Regions from separate parts of the Homo sapiens genome. Here region 2 is reported to be linked to region 1. Evidence: microRNA targets listed by miRTarBase, many of them from high-throughput screens and not tested one by one. Region 1 holds a microRNA gene; the other region holds the end of a gene's coding sequence.

The links. The annotated mature microRNA hsa-miR-1272 reads GAUGAUGAUGGCAGCAAAUUCUGAAA and lies in region 1 at 2,734-2,759, opposite strand. An mRNA with a match to its seed (bases 2 to 7 or 8) in the 3' UTR can be bound and repressed. Matches are read on the target gene's strand: a 7mer-m8 pairs with bases 2 to 8, a 7mer-A1 pairs with bases 2 to 7 and ends in A, and an 8mer does both.
Region 2: the mRNA of ZNF853 is a reported target of hsa-miR-1272. Seed matches in the 3' UTR shown: 7mer-m8 at 2,551-2,557, 7mer-m8 at 2,548-2,554, 7mer-m8 at 2,545-2,551 and 7mer-m8 at 2,542-2,548.

Annotation. Positions count from the first base shown.
Region 1 is chr15:64,759,738-64,764,317 of GRCh38, forward strand. It overlaps MIR1272 (microRNA 1272), which reads right to left and starts at 2,778; the gene lies at 2,650-2,778. All of the region lies in intron 1 of RBPMS2 (RNA binding protein, mRNA processing factor 2), which reads right to left. RefSeq lists an enhancer at 4,006-4,580.
Region 2 is chr7:6,622,657-6,625,656 of GRCh38, reverse strand. It overlaps ZNF853 (zinc finger protein 853), which reads right to left. Exons shown (of 3, transcript NM_017560.3): 3 at 1,367-3,000. The coding sequence ends at 2,686. Among named protein-coding and RNA genes, the nearest start is that of ZNF853, 8.5 kb to the right of the region's middle. RefSeq lists an enhancer at 1,223-1,723.

The DNA of each region.
Region 1 (4,580 bases):
TCTCAGCTCACTGCAACCTCTACTTCCCGTGTTCAAGCGATTCTCCTGCCTCAGCCTCCGGAGTAGCTATGACTACAGGAGCGCGCCACCATGCCCGGCTAATTTTTGTATTTTTAGTAGAGATGGGGTTCCGCCATGTTGGCCAGGATGGTCTTGAACTCCTGACCTCAAGTGATCTGCCCACCTTGGCCTCCCAAAGTTCTGGGATTACAGGCGTGAGCCACCGCGCCAGGCCTACTCGGCCTGTGTCTATCAGCTCAGGTAGACGTCTCTCTTGGCCCTGGACACTGCCATGGGCAGACCTGGCATTCAAGCTGCTGCCACAAAAGGCCAGTGCCCTGGACAGCAGATGCTTAGGGTCCCTCCTTCCAGGGCACACACAGGGCCCAGCTCACATGGAGGTCCTGCAGGAATAGGGAATGGGCTCGTGGGGGAGAAGGAGGGGCCAAAGCAGCTGAGCAAAGCCTCCATGAAGAACAGGACTGGGACATGGGGTCGGCCAGGAGCCACGACCATGGGGACCCCACACTTGGTCAGAAGTGGCTGCGGCCTGGCCGCTCACCAGAAGCGTGTCTCCCTCTGCAAGGGGAAGGACAAGCCCGATGCTGAGGGATCCAACTCTAAACTTCTCAGATACTGTGACCATGAGGACAAGTTCCGTAAGTGCTGGCTTTTATTAGTGATGGAAAAGGTAAACACTGCTTTCAAAAACAGTGGTAGGCTCAGGGATATTAAAGTCTCTTAAGCTTTAAGTTTGGAGGACAAATCCCGGCCTTAGAATAGCCACGAAAGGACCCCAGACTCCAGGAACCACCACCTAGAAAACAGATCCTTCTCCGGATCACCTGAGGTCAGGAGTTCTAGACCAGCCTGGCTAACATGGTGAAATCCCCTTTCCACTAAAAATACAAAAATCAGCCAGGCATGGTAGCGCACGCCTGTAATCCCAGCTACTCGGGAGGCTGAGGCTGGAGAAATCGCTTGAACCCAGGAGACAGAGGTTGCACTGAGCCGAGATCACGTCATTGCACTCCAGCTTGGGCAAAAAGAGTGAAACTCCATCTCGAAAAAAAAAAAAGAAAGCAAACAGACCCTTCTCCACCAAGGATACTGAGGCAAGAAACCACTGGAACCACTCCCCACTCTTCCCTGCCCACAGACAACCCACCAACCCACCAGGAACAGTCACCCCTAGAGGCCAACTCTGGCCTTCTGTAAATTCCTGTCTCACAGGATTGGGACTTGGAGAAAAGACACCCCAGGAAAATCTCACTGCAGGCAATAGAAATATCCTTAAAAAAAAAAAAAAAAAGACTTTTGCAGCAACCCTTTAGCATCTCTAAAAGTTAGAATTCAATCTGGAAAGGAAGAATTGTTTCAACTGTCCACTCACAATGTTCAAGTAACGAATGCACGTGCTTCAGCAGTCCCCTACCCACTGCTTCGAGCGAGCTCTCCCGGTGTCATCCCGATGGAAAACACTACTTTGGGAAGGGGGTGAGAAGAGGAGAGAAATCCAAAAAGGGAAAAACGAGCCTCTTATAAGCCCCTCCCACATCCTTCCCCAACTCCCAGCCCTCAGTAGCAACCCAAATACAGAACATCTGAGCTGGAAGAAACCTTATTTTTAGAGGAGGAAACCAGGGCCTAGGGGTCGAGCGAGTTGCTCGCAGTTACCGAGCATGTCAGAAACAGCCTGTTCCCAAGTGCCCAGCTCACGAGTCAATGCTCTTTTGCAGACCTTGATCTCACACCAACCCACTCAGACCCAGTGGGGCCAGCCCAAGGTACCCAGGAACAACTGGCCTTCGGCTTTTTTGAGACAGGGTCTTGCTCTGTTGCTCAGGCTGGAGTGCAGTGGCGCAAACATGGCTCACTGCAGCCTCCTGGACTCAAGCGATCCTCTTGCCTCCATCTCCTGAGTAACTGGGACCACAGGTGCACACCACAAAGCCCAGCTTTTTTTTTTTTTTTTTTTTTTTTGAGACGGAGTCTCACTCTGTCGCCCAGGCTGCAATGCAATGGCATGATCTTGGCTCACTGCAACCTCCACCTCCGCCTCCTGGGTTCAAGTGATTCTCCTGCCTCAGCCTCCCAAATAGCTGGGATTATAGGCACCCACCACCATGCCCGACAATTTTTGTATTTTTAGTAGAGATGGGGTTCCACCATGTTGGCCAGGCTGGTCTCAAAAACTCCTGACCTCAAGTGATCCATCCGCCTCAGCATCCCAAAGTGCTGGGATTACAAGCATGAGCCACTGTGCCCAACTCCCGGCTAATTTTTTAATTTTGTGTAGAGGTGGGGTCTCACCATGTTGCCCAAGCTCATCTCGAATTCCTGGACTCAAGCCATCCTCCTGCAATCCCAAAGTGACTCACGCCTGGCCTGGTCTTCAGCTCATGAACAAAGAGGACAGACACAGTATCTTGCAAAAGGTTGGGGTAGGTATGATGGTGATGGTGGCGATGGCAGGGGGGTGGGGGGTGGTCCCACTGGATGATGCCACGGTGAATCCTACATGGTTACAGGCCAACGACGAGACTGACTGACAGACTGTCAACTCCCCACAGCTGAGTGTGAGTGGCCTTGTGCCCCACTAGCTATGGGGAGGTTGGGGATGGGTGCTGGAGCAGGCCCAGCCATCCCTACCAGCCCAGACCACAGAGCACACGAGCTGCAGCCTACATTTCTAAGTTTACGGCTTTCCTGTTATAAAGACACTGAGCACGTTTTCAGAATTTGCTGCCATCATCATCGCACCCAGATCTGATCTGGCTTCCCCAAGGGAAAGAGACCCCACTGAGAACCAGGACACTGCACTCAGGGTCCAGCTCAGAAGATACCCACTGACGAGATTCCAAACAAAAGACAAAGAACCTCAAAACAACGTCAGGAAGCCCAGGGTGAAGCCCCAGCCCTGTCACCAGCCATAGCAGGTGGCTTTGTGGCCTTCGCTTGTCAGCCTCAGCTACAGTAGAGTAGACTCGCCTCAGGTCCCGTCACACACTGACACTCTATGACACCAGGCGTTTTAAAGGGCAGTAGAATGCGACTGAGTCTCAGATAAGACTCAGCCACCATCCTCCATCTGCTCAGAGCTTCAGTGACTCCTTCTGCACACAAGGTGGCAAAGAAGTGGTGTGAACAGAGAAGAGAAGGGGACAAGATGGAAGTCAGGGGCCAGCCAGCTCTGGGCCCTAGACCGACCTGGGCCTGGGAACTTGAGGGGGGTCTCTGCAGAGCCAACGTTAGGGCTGCCGAACAGAAACGTCAGGGCAGTCATACCCTTGGTGTGGTCTTGGTCGCCGTAGTGGGTAGGGGGTGGGGGTGGGAGTGTTTTGGGGGATTGGGTCCTGCCTGGGCCCCGCGCTTAGGCTTGGCACCAGCAGGTTGCTCTTACGCCTCCCATAGGAAAGAAGGCCCTCTGAGTATGGCCACTTGACGTGAGGTGGATGGAATGTGGCGACATGGCCTGCAGACCCAGGACTTATAAGGCTCTGAATAAGGACACAGGGGAAGACAGCAAGCAGCACACAGCCAGACAGTGGATGTGAACCTAGATCCACACACTCCACAACATGTTTCCCATGCTTCCTGCAAGGAGCTCTGGGGTGGCTCAGCTACCCAGGCAAGGACGATGCCCAGATCCCCTTGCAAGAAGCCCCCATCTAGAGGACACTTGGCCCCAGAGTTTACCAGTGTCACCACAGCCTCACCTAGTAAGGACAAGTCCCAGGTTCAGGTGGGATCTGGTGTTCTGCCTGCCCCTGCTATCCCTCTTGCCCCAAATCCCATGTTATCAGGGCCTGGCTATAAGGCCCCATCCTGGGCTGCACCTTGTAGTTTCATTCCTTTACACAAACCATCAGCATGCAAAGCTCATAGTCCTTTGAGCAACAGGTAGAACAGGTATGGGGTCCCCATTTTACAGATGCAGAAGTCAGTCCAGGGATCAAGTGCCTGGCTGGCCAGTGGCAGAGCTGAGGCTTAAGTCCAAGTTGCCTGAAAAGTTTGGGGCTCTTCCTCATAATGTGCAATGTGTCCTAGACTTCCAATGGTGTGTGTGTGTAGGGGTGGGGGGAATAGAGACTGGGGGGAACTAAGCCAGGGTGAAAAGTTATCTGAAAGGAGGGACAGGGCTGGGCAGGTATAAGAAGGCTTCAGGCCTCATTCTCCAAGCCACTTCCAGCCCCAGGAAGAGAAGCCTTAATGTCGTGGGAACACACCTGGTCAAAGCCTGTTGTGTGCACTTGACCTACACCTCATTTAGGGAACTAGACCAAACAGAGAATGAGCTGTGCTTGCAAACTCTGTGTCAGGGCAGGCTGGCTGAAGCGTGCCTTCCATCAGGATCCAGACAGAGCCAGGGGCCAGGACTTGGCTTTCAGGGGCAAAGTTCACTGGGCACCCCGGCATGGAAGCCTCCCAGGCCCACCCACCTCCTGCAGCCTTCTTGGTGCTGTGTGGCCAGCTAACACAGATCTACTGCCTGCCTGTGTGCCTGGCAAGGGTTGCAGTTGCCGCCACTGCCATACAATACCCTACAGAAGGGACTAGATTCAAGGCATTGGGCTAGA
Region 2 (3,000 bases), not on the chromosome of region 1:
TGAATGAATGAATGAATGAAGACTCTCAGGGCTGGGAGGAGACTCCAGGCCTCACGATGCTCCTCCAAGTGGCTGTGCAGCAGGGCGAGCTCAGCACCATCACTCCAGGCTGCAGCTGGCCTGAATTTTTGGGGGGTGGAGGGGGAAATGGTCTCGCTGTTTCCCAGACTGGAGTGCAGTGGTATTATTTTTTAGTAGAGATGGGGTTTTGTTATGTTGCCCAGGCTGGTCTCAAACTCCTGACCTCTAGTGATCCCCCCACCTCAGACTCCCAGAGTGCTGGGATTACAGGTGTGAGCCACTACCAAGTTGGGCTGAATTGATACAAAGGTTGTCCTTACTAGATCCCAAAGCTGGCCTTCTCAAGCATCCACCCTCTGGTACCTGACCCTCCCATGAGGTTCTCACCGAGTAAGTCCATTACCCAGCCAAGGGCCTCAGGCTGGAAGGCTGGTCTGGGGTGAGGAGGATTGGGTAATGGGCCTGAACAGCATGCTCCTTGCTCGAGAGCAACCAGAAACATTTTCCTTGAAATGAACCTCAACAGCCTGGGCGACACAGTGAGACCCCCTCTCTAAAAACTAATTAAAATTTAGCCAGACATGGCCAGGTGCAGGGGCTCATACCTGTAATCCCAGGACTTTGGGAGGCTGAGGCGGGCAGATCACAAGGTCAGGAGTTCAAGACCAGCCTGGCCAACATGGTGAAACCCCATCTCTACTAAAAATACAAAAAATTAGCCGGACGTAGTGGCGGGTGCCTGTAATCTCAGCTACTCAGGAGGCTGAGGCAGGAGAATCGCTTGAACCCAGGAGGCGGAGGTTGCAGTGAGCAGAGATCATGCTACTGCACTCCAGCCTGGGCAACAATGTGAGACTCCATCTCAAAAAAAAAAAAAAAAAAAAAAAATTAGCCAGACATTGTGGCATGCACCTGTAGTCCCACCTACTCAGGAGGCTGAGGTAGGAGAATTGCTTGAGCCCAGGAGTTTCAGGTTGCAGTGATCAAACCACTGCATTCTAGCCTGGGCAACAGAGCAAGAACCTCTTTCAAAAAAAGAAAGAAAAAAAGGAATGAATCTTTGGCCAGGCACAGTGGCTACACCTGTACTCCCTGCAGTTTGCGAGGCTGAGGTGGAAGGATTGCTTGAGCCTGGGAGTTTGAGACCAGCCCAGGCAACATTAAAAAAAAAAGAAAGAAAAGAAACAGAAAGAAGAAAGGAAAGGAAGGGAAGGGTAAAGAGGAAAGAAAGGGGAAAAGGGGGACGGGGAAAGGAAGGGAAGGGAAGGAAAAAAGAAAGAAAGAAAAGAAAGGAAGCCCTATGGAAGACACAAAATCCAGAGGTGAAAACACCAAGACAAGGACATTGTATTTCTGCATTTTAATTTATTTTTCGTTTCTGTTTCTCACTTACCAACACATGTGTAAAATGTAGCAGGTGTGTTAGTAAAGGAGAAGCAGCTGGGGGGAGAGGGGCAGGAATTAAGCAGCCACATGTGAAGAGTCAGGTCAAGCAGGAAGTGACTGGGGGCAGAGGTGGCGGGCAGCCTCCTCCCTGCCCCACCTTCCCACAAGGCACCAGCAACTGCTGCAGCTCACAACCCCTGCCCCAGACGACTTGGTGAACGTGGTAAAGAGCATTGCTCCCAAACGTCGTCTCAGATATTCTTTCCCCAGCCCCAGCAATGGCACAGTGTCTGCTCAGGCAGCCCTCCAAACCTCCACAGCCTGGTGCGGGAGAAATCTGCCCTGGTCTCCCCGGGCCGGCCCCTGGGTAGCATCTGAGAAGCATGAAGCTGGTGGAGTCCAGGGGGGCCACAGTGGGGCTACCCCGGAGCTCCTTCTGGGGGACCCTCCTTCCAGACCTTGGAGAGCTCTCCCAGAAGGCCCTCTGCTTCAGCCACAGGCTCTTATTCCAGAGGACATTAATGCGGGCTGGGGGGACTGGGGGACACAGCAGCAGAGGCCAAGAAGCTGCCTCCGATGCCCGCCGGAGCCCCTGGTTCCCTGGAGGGAAGGTTTTACCTTCCACCCGGAGCAGGACTTCCTGGCTTGGATTTGCACATCGACCCGGTGAGCGCTCTGACCCTGTGTTGATGAACACAGGCGTTTTCATCAGAATTATACCCACCCTGATGAATTTTCATCTTGGAAAGTATTTTCAAGGCAAATGCCTCTGAGGACGATTCGATGCCTTGGTCAGTTTCTACATAGTGCAAACAAGTTTGCTTCCTCCCCGAATTTCTCCTTGCGATCATTTTCACCAGGATCGAAGATTTTCCACGTGTGTCTCACCACGTCTTGATTCCCTGGTGGGTGTCCAGTCCTCGGCCAGTGTCATTAATCGTCTCGCCACTGGGGGTTTTTCCTCGTTCGTAGTAAGTCCAGTTTTCCCGGAGGGAAAACCTTTGGCAGACCCCTCAAAGGGCAGACAAACGTGTCCCGTGTGCTGTTTCAGCCCCGGTCCACTTCTCTTTTGGCGGATGGATTTTTCTGGCGGTGAAATCTGTGAACCTGGTATTTTCTCAGGGAATCCGGAAGATGATGATGATGATGATGGTGGAAGCCTTTTACTCCAGGGATATTCCAGGACGCCTCCAGCGCCCATGAACCCGGGTCAAGGAGCTTTTCAGGTGGAGGCGGGTGGGGGGTCCCCTCCCGGCCAGGCAGCCCCGATCACGGCCCTCACAGCGCCTTGTCTGCGGGCGCAGTGGCTGTAGCGGCCTGCTCCGCGCGGGCTGGGCCACCGAGGGCCGCCGGCCGCGAGGCGCGCAGCAGGCCGAGGCCCCTGGAGCGGCCCGCGCCGTGCAGCTGGCGCTCGTGGCGGCGGATCTGCACCTTGTGTCGGAAGCGCTCGCCACAGTCCTCGCACACGTAGGGCCGCTCGCCCGAGTGCGTGCGCCGGTGGCGCAGCAGGTTGGAGGAGACGCTGAAGCGCTTGCCACAGTCCCCGCAGGCGTAGGGTCGCTCCCCGGTGTGCGTGCGCTGGTGCTGCACGAG